Homo sapiens: one gene and its partner. The protein of the gene in region 1 interacts with the protein of each later gene in a pairwise test. Each region holds a gene or a part of one and is shown in the gene's direction. Other genes may lie near its edges.

Region 1 (3,500 bases):
TGAACCAGCTCCTGAGTCTACTGAGGGACAGACCACTGTATTTTATTTTTATTCTGTTGTATTTCATTTTAAAATAAGCTGGTTGCAACCCACTTCATTTTCGTGATTCACTCCTGGATCATTAGTAGCAACTCTTTAAACAATAATTTTTGTTGAAATTGTTTTTCTGATATCTTTGTCATCTGTACTTGGAGTACTTGGCTGGTTGGTGTCAAATCACTGAACTTGAGCCTGATAGGCTGTTCTCCAGCAGGGTCTACCCTCACTGGTTGGACAAAGGCGTCAAAGGATAGTGTTGGCCTTTGTTTTTCCTGAGGGATAGCACAGCCCCCGTGTGTCAGGTGTGTAAAGAAGGGGAGCTGGCATGTGCCCTTCCATCCAACCTAACCCTGTTTCCCCACCCCTCCCTTTTTTTAAAGGTAACATTTGTCGATCACCCATTGCAGAAGCAGTTTTCAGGAAACTTGTAACCGATCAAAACATCTCAGAGAATGTAAGTACCATTCATTATCTTAAAGAGGCCAACCTGAACTCCTCTGGGCAGGAAATTGCAAAAAAAAAAAAAAAATTCCATGTTTCTTCCCCTGCAGTGGAGGGTAGACAGCGCGGCAACTTCCGGGTATGAGATAGGGAACCCCCCTGACTACCGAGGGCAGAGCTGCATGAAGAGGCACGGCATTCCCATGAGCCACGTTGCCCGGCAGGTACCGTCCTTGGACTTGAAGTTGTGTGTTTTGTGTTTCAGTGGGTCATTGACAGCGGTGCTGTTTCTGACTGGAACGTGGGCCGGTCCCCAGACCCAAGAGCTGTGAGCTGCCTAAGAAATCATGGCATTCACACAGCCCATAAAGCAAGACAGGTAGACAAGCTCTTGTTCAATTTCTAATATATAGAGTCCAGTAACTTGAGAAGTAGCGAAAGGATTAACCAGACTTGTATATTAATGAATGTGTTTATTTAGGGTGAGCTTAACCAGCTATGGTGTGTCCATTTTGTTTCACTTCTGGTTGCACGGTGTTGAAAGACTTGCCTGACTTTGGAATTTACTTATTAAAATGCACATAAAAGCTAGGTAATTTATAATGAGAGAGCCTGACTGTGAGCTGGGGCTGAGCGGTGCTCTGTCTTCTGTTCCTTCCTGCATAATTTTTATTAAACATTTAGGCCATAGTAATCATCCTGCTGATATTGCAAGTTTGTTGCTAGAATGAGGTTATATAATATATACAAAAACATTTTTTCAACTGTAAAGTGCCTTAGTAATATAGGGTAATACCAGCAACATTATGGATATATAATTATAGTCTATTGGGCCACACTTAAGTTTGGAGTCTAATAAAGTCACAATCAAATTCTGCAATTTCAATTGAAGATAACCTTGTCTTTATATTATGAATTAGAAGCTAAAGTTGATTTTTCTAAGAGTTCTTTATTTAAATGAAGTACTCTGGGACTGACCTTTTCGGAAATGGAATCTTCATTGGTCAGGTGATTCAACATTTTTATACAATTTATCCATCCTCATCTCTTCAGGATTTGCATACCTTGCCAGTTTCTACTGGCCATTGTTGAAAATACATTTATTTGGAGAAGTCCAAAGCCAAGGGGCTCATGGGGCTGTGAAGTCCTTCTTGCTGCATCGTCCTGTGGTAGAAGGTGGAGGAGTCAAGAGAGTGCCCCAGAGTGAGTGAGAGCGAGAACTAGAAAAACGGGAAGAGGGAAACAGAGGAGAGAGAGAGAGAGGACCCATCAGTGTCAGGAGCCCACTCCCAAGATAGTGGCATTAATAAAGATCCTGCGTCTCACTATTGTTGCATTGGGGATGAAGTTTCCAACAAAGGAACTTTGGGGGACACATCCAAACCATAACATAGGATTTAAATAATTTTACAGAGTTCAAGAGTTCTGCTACTGAACCGTTTGAGATCCCTGTTCTGAGGTCTCATCACTTTCCAGTTTTAGCAGGAAGAGAAGTGGCAAGTGGCAGGAGTCTGCAGATTGGGGCCTGCACCTTTTTTTGAGGCACCTTTTTTATGAACAGTGTTTGTTGGAACACAGCCAGACTCACTCATTCACCTGTAGTTCGCGGCTGCTTTTGTGCTAGAGCAGCACAGCCAGAGCGGCCTGGTGGCCACAAAGCCCGACTGTCTCTGCAGCACTGGTTTTTTATATGGCGTTTCTAGTTGTTTTTAGTAGTAGGGGTGATTTGCCACAAGCTGTTTCATTTATAGCTGCAAGTGGAAATCCTTTATTGTGCATTTGTTACATAAGTTATAGCTGTTTCTTTCTCAATTATTGTAACATCTAAAAATTATGTAACAGTTACTAAGTCTTTTTTTATGAAAAATTTACAATTAGTCCAGAATTTAAAACAAGTTTAGTATTAAATCCTAGGGAATTTCTCACATAACTAATTTGGAGAAATAATATAATACTGTTCAGGCATGGTGGCTCACACTTATAATCCTAATAACACTTTGGGAGGCTCAACATTGCTTGAGCCTAGGAGGTCAAGACCAGCCTGAGCAACATAGTGAGACCCATCTCTACCAAAAAAATTTTAAAAATTAGCTGGGTGCTATGACATATGCCTGTAGTCCCAGCTGTTTGGGAGGCTGAGGTAGGAGGTTGGCTTGAACTCAAGAAGTTGAGGCTGCAGTGAGCTATGATCACACCACTGTACCCCAGTGTTGGTGACAGAGTGAGACCTTTTCTCTAAAAACAAAAAGAAAAAATTCAGTATTGTACTTATTCTCAATTTTGAAATAAGTCAATGTCATGGGAGTGTTGACGAAATACAGTCTTTTCTAGCTACTGGAAGTGCATACTAAAAGCCAAAGTTTCTCATTTTTTAGAAGAACAGGTATACACTTTCCACCTTTGTTCCGCAGTACGTATGTTTATGTTTCTTATTCTGCCATTATTTATAGTAGTCGAAATTCACAAAATAATCTTTTCATTTGTATTTTAAGTAGGTGTGTTTATAGATTATATCAGAAAACAATCATAAGCTTTCAGGTTACAATCAGTAGAAATACTGAGTGGCATTCTCTTCTGTGTGAGGTTTAAATTATGGATAGTCAATCAAAATAAAGGAGGACTGTCAGTTATCACTCCTGTGTTTCTTTCTTAGTGACCACCTCTGACCACCCAACTTAATACTTTTACTCCTCCCTGCCCCAAAGCTGTATGTATCTCCTCTCTGCTTTATTTCCTCCAGGGCATCTGTGCCTCCTGTGTGTTGCCTGCCCCCATGTGGAAGGGCAGCTCCATGGGACGCGGCTCTGTCCACTTAGCTTGGTGTTTGTTACTGGGGCCCAGGATGTTCAGTGCTTGTGGAATGAAAAATAGAGTAGAATAATGAAGGGGATTAAATATGTGACATTTTAGTATGTTGACTGTATTATACACTGCTACTAAGGAATTGAAGCCGATGTATAAACATTGTGTCTACACATTATACTATTTTATGATTATTGTATGGAACTTTATAATACAAA
Region 2 (3,500 bases), on another chromosome or scaffold:
ATAATGAACTGGAGTGGGGACCAGAATTCTGGTCATTGAATCCAGAGGGCCAAGCCTGCCAGTCTTCACTGTGATGCTTTTCTAGGCTTAGTAGTTAAGTCTTCATATTCTGGGGAAACTATAACTTGTGGAGATAAACTACCTTTTGTGTTTTGGGCCTGATACTTGGATTTGGACCTTTCTATGGAGCAATTCTGTGAAAATGCAGGTCTCAAAGTCCCAGGCTGTGGGAGTTTGGGGAGACAAGGAGTGTAACTGCTGTCAATGAAACAGCAAGGTCAGTGCTGGCAAATAGGATATGTCAAAAAAAAAATGCCTTTAAGTTATTGGACTTTATGTGTTCCAACATATTTCCTAGTGGCATGTGCCAGTGAATTTTCAGTTGTGAGGATTCTATATGTGCCACTTTGAGCTTGTGACTTCCTGTTTTTCCTCACGTATCCCCAGCTCTGAGGTGTACACTGCAGTAGGTCTGGGTACCTGTTGATAAACAACTAGTATGGACTGTTGGTCCAGCCAAGTCTTACCAAAGTATCCTGAATTAACTTGAGGTTAGAAGTCTCAGACTTGGCCGGGGGCAGTGGCTCACGCCTGTAATCCCAGCACTTTGGGAGGCCGAGGCAGGTGGATCACGAGGTCAAGAGATTGAGACCATCCTGGCCAACATGGTGAAACCCCATCGCTACTAAAAATACAAAAATTAGCTGGGCATGGTGGCACGTGCCTGTAGTCCCAGCTACTTGAGAGACCGAGGCAGGAGAATTGCTTGAACCTGGGAGGTGGAGGTTGCAGTGAGCCGAGATCGCGCAACTGCACTCCATCCAGCCTGGCGACAGAGCGAGACTCCGCCTCAAAAAAAAAAAAAAAAAAAAGTCTCAGTCTTGTATATGTTATGGGCCAGTTGCTTTAAAAAAAAAAAAAAGCACCAGAATTTTGTCATCAAATGAAATGTTTTCTGGAAGCATAAACAAGAACTACTCTGATTGAATAGTAAAAGGTGGGAGTGCTATGGGGCAGGGAGCTGATAGCCAGTAAGGGGTCCTTTTAGAAGGCTAGAATCCCAGTGTCATCTGGTTTTAGGAAAACAATACTAAGTGCCTTACTATTTTTTTTCTTTCTTTTGTTGTTTAGCATGTCCCAGGTTTTAAGTATTATAAGTCAATAGCACTTGTTAAAAGGTATTAACAACAGTGTAACTATGAGGGTAGAAATATTTAATTTTTGATGGGGGATCACTAATTGAACTCCTTTAGAATGATTGAAAAATTCAGTTTTCTCTTTTTAAAAAAATTCTTGATTATTAGCAACTACAAGAAATGGACGAACGAAGGACTATTAAACTCAGTGAGTGTTACAGAGGATTTGCTGACTCAGAACGCAAAGTTATTCCCATCATTTCAAAATGTTTGGAAGGAATGATTCTTGCAGCAAAATCAGTTGATGAAAGAAGAGTAAGTGCTAAATAATTATCTTTGAATGCATCTGTTTGGTTTAGGTGTGCAGTTTAAGTTAGTGAAATGAGTTGAGAAAGGGATAAAGTAATCTGATGTGTGGTTCTAAATTATATTCTGTAGAAGAATGTCTTGCAATAGATTCCTTTGAGTTCTGAGATTCATTCTACATGCAAAAGTTCTAATTCTTTCTTAAAAAAAAAAAAAAGATTTCTAACTCTCTTCTCCCACTAAGTTTTCAGTTCTTATCAAAGAGTCTAACCTAGGAACTGTGTGTTACAAATTGTGTTATACTATTATATTAGTTTAGTGAAAATTTAGAGAAGTATGTGGTTAGAGTTGCCTTTAGCACTTGAGCTGGATCAAGAAATGTGGGTAGCATATGGAGTGATGACCAATGAGGAGGAGGAAGGAGGGCATTATGTGCAGATGAAACAGCATAGCCCTCCTCCCCTTGAGGATAGGTAATCACATTGTATCTTGATTAAGGACTAGGGTCTTTTATCTCAGTAAATGTTGATTGAGTGATCAAAAAGCATGGTTGGCAGAAACTGAGGAAAGGCAGTGGCAAGAGAAGAGAACTGGTGTTTGCAGGATATCAGATATGTGTCACATATTTTAGTCTTCATGAACCTATCAAGTAGATATTATATTAGTGAGGATCCTTTCTGTTACAGCTAATAGAATTCTCACTTAAATTTAGAAAAGAGGATTTTTGGCTTTCAGCATGGCTGGATACAAGTTTATACAATATCATTACAGCCCTCTTCTCTCTAATTACCCTTTAGCAAATTATTGCTGAGGGTAGCATTACTGACAAAAGTAAGCTATGACTTAAGGATGACTTTTGACTAAATGAAGGGCAAAATGTACTGTTAACAGAAATAGGCAACAAAAGAGAGGTTGTTGTTAGGGGTGGGGAGGAATTTGTAGAGATACTCTGAAAATAATGAGTTTAAGGTATCACTAAAGCATTCAGGTAGAGGTATGTATGTCTAAAAACAATATTTATGTGAGTTTAAAAATTTTAAATACATGGTATTAAACTTTCAAATGTTGTTTGCACTCAGTAGTGTTTATGAGATCTTTTCCCTGTTGCTCTGTTAACATTCCACAGTATATATTTAATTTATTTATCTTTTCCCATGTTGGATGAGTTAGAAAGCCTTTCCTACTCATCTTTTACTCTCTTTTACAATTAGATGTTCTTTCCTCATTCCAAAGATTAGCTTCTTTGTTGACATCTATCTTTTAAAGCAAAAAGCCTTTTTCCTTTGAAACTTCTCAGAATTTCTACTTGTTAATAACCTCTTTCTGTATTCTTTTTGTCAGTTAGGTCTTTTTCAGCTAAGTAGTCTTCAGATGAATTTCAGGTGGTTAAAGCTACCAAGTAAAAACATTTTATGAATATTATAAATTAATTAAGTTGTAATTTGCAAGTATATTTTTCTTTTGGGATTAAAATACTTTGAGTTTGTTACACATTCATGGGAATAAATTATTTACCTTAATGATTATTGTGGAATTATTTATTTAAACTTATATTTGTTGTTTTTTTGTACTGAAAAAGTTATGAAAGCTGATGTAGAATTATGAGCAAGTGAAACAGTTTTAAAACCTAGTTTCTTTTGTATAGGACTCTCAAATGGTGGTAGACTCCTTCAAATCTGGTTTTGAACCTCCAGGAGACTTTCCATTTGAAGATTACAGTCAACATATATATAGAACCATTTCTGATGGGACTATCAGTGCATCCAAACAGGAGAGTGGGAAGATGGATGCCAAAACCACAGTAGGAAAGGCCAAGGGCAAATTGTGGCTCTTTGGAAAGAAGCCAAAGGTAAAAGTCATAAAATTCCTATATGCTAATCAGTTTAAGTGTACCAACTAAAACAATGTGGGTATTGAATGCAAAATGATTTACCATTAATGGAGAATAAATATTTTCAATTTGAATGATTCAGTTAACCTTTCACTTATATTAGGAATACCTTAACAGTAACAGTTATTTATGGATTTAACATTTGACTACCGCTTAATAATGGGTAA

Evidence for each region. Proteins that work in one complex are often made in the same cells at the same time.
Region 2: the proteins of ACP1 (region 1) and FNBP1L interact in a two-hybrid assay, tested with the Homo sapiens proteins (one large-scale study listed by BioGRID and IntAct).

Annotation. Positions count from the first base shown.
Region 1 is NC_000002.12:271,447-274,946, forward strand, and holds part of ACP1 (low molecular weight phosphotyrosine protein phosphatase), read left to right. Parts: intron 1-419; coding exon 420-493; intron 494-590; coding exon 591-704; coding exon of another isoform or gene 705-859; exon of another isoform or gene 860-1,035; intron 1,036-3,500. UniProt on the Homo sapiens protein: Acts on tyrosine phosphorylated proteins, low-MW aryl phosphates and natural and synthetic acyl phosphates with differences in substrate specificity between isoform 1 and isoform 2.
Region 2 is NC_000001.11:93,531,618-93,535,117, forward strand, and holds part of FNBP1L (formin-binding protein 1-like), read left to right. Parts: intron 1-1,304; coding exon 1,305-1,451; intron 1,452-3,087; coding exon 3,088-3,291; intron 3,292-3,500. UniProt on the Homo sapiens protein: Required to coordinate membrane tubulation with reorganization of the actin cytoskeleton during endocytosis. May bind to lipids such as phosphatidylinositol 4,5-bisphosphate and phosphatidylserine and promote membrane invagination and the formation of tubules.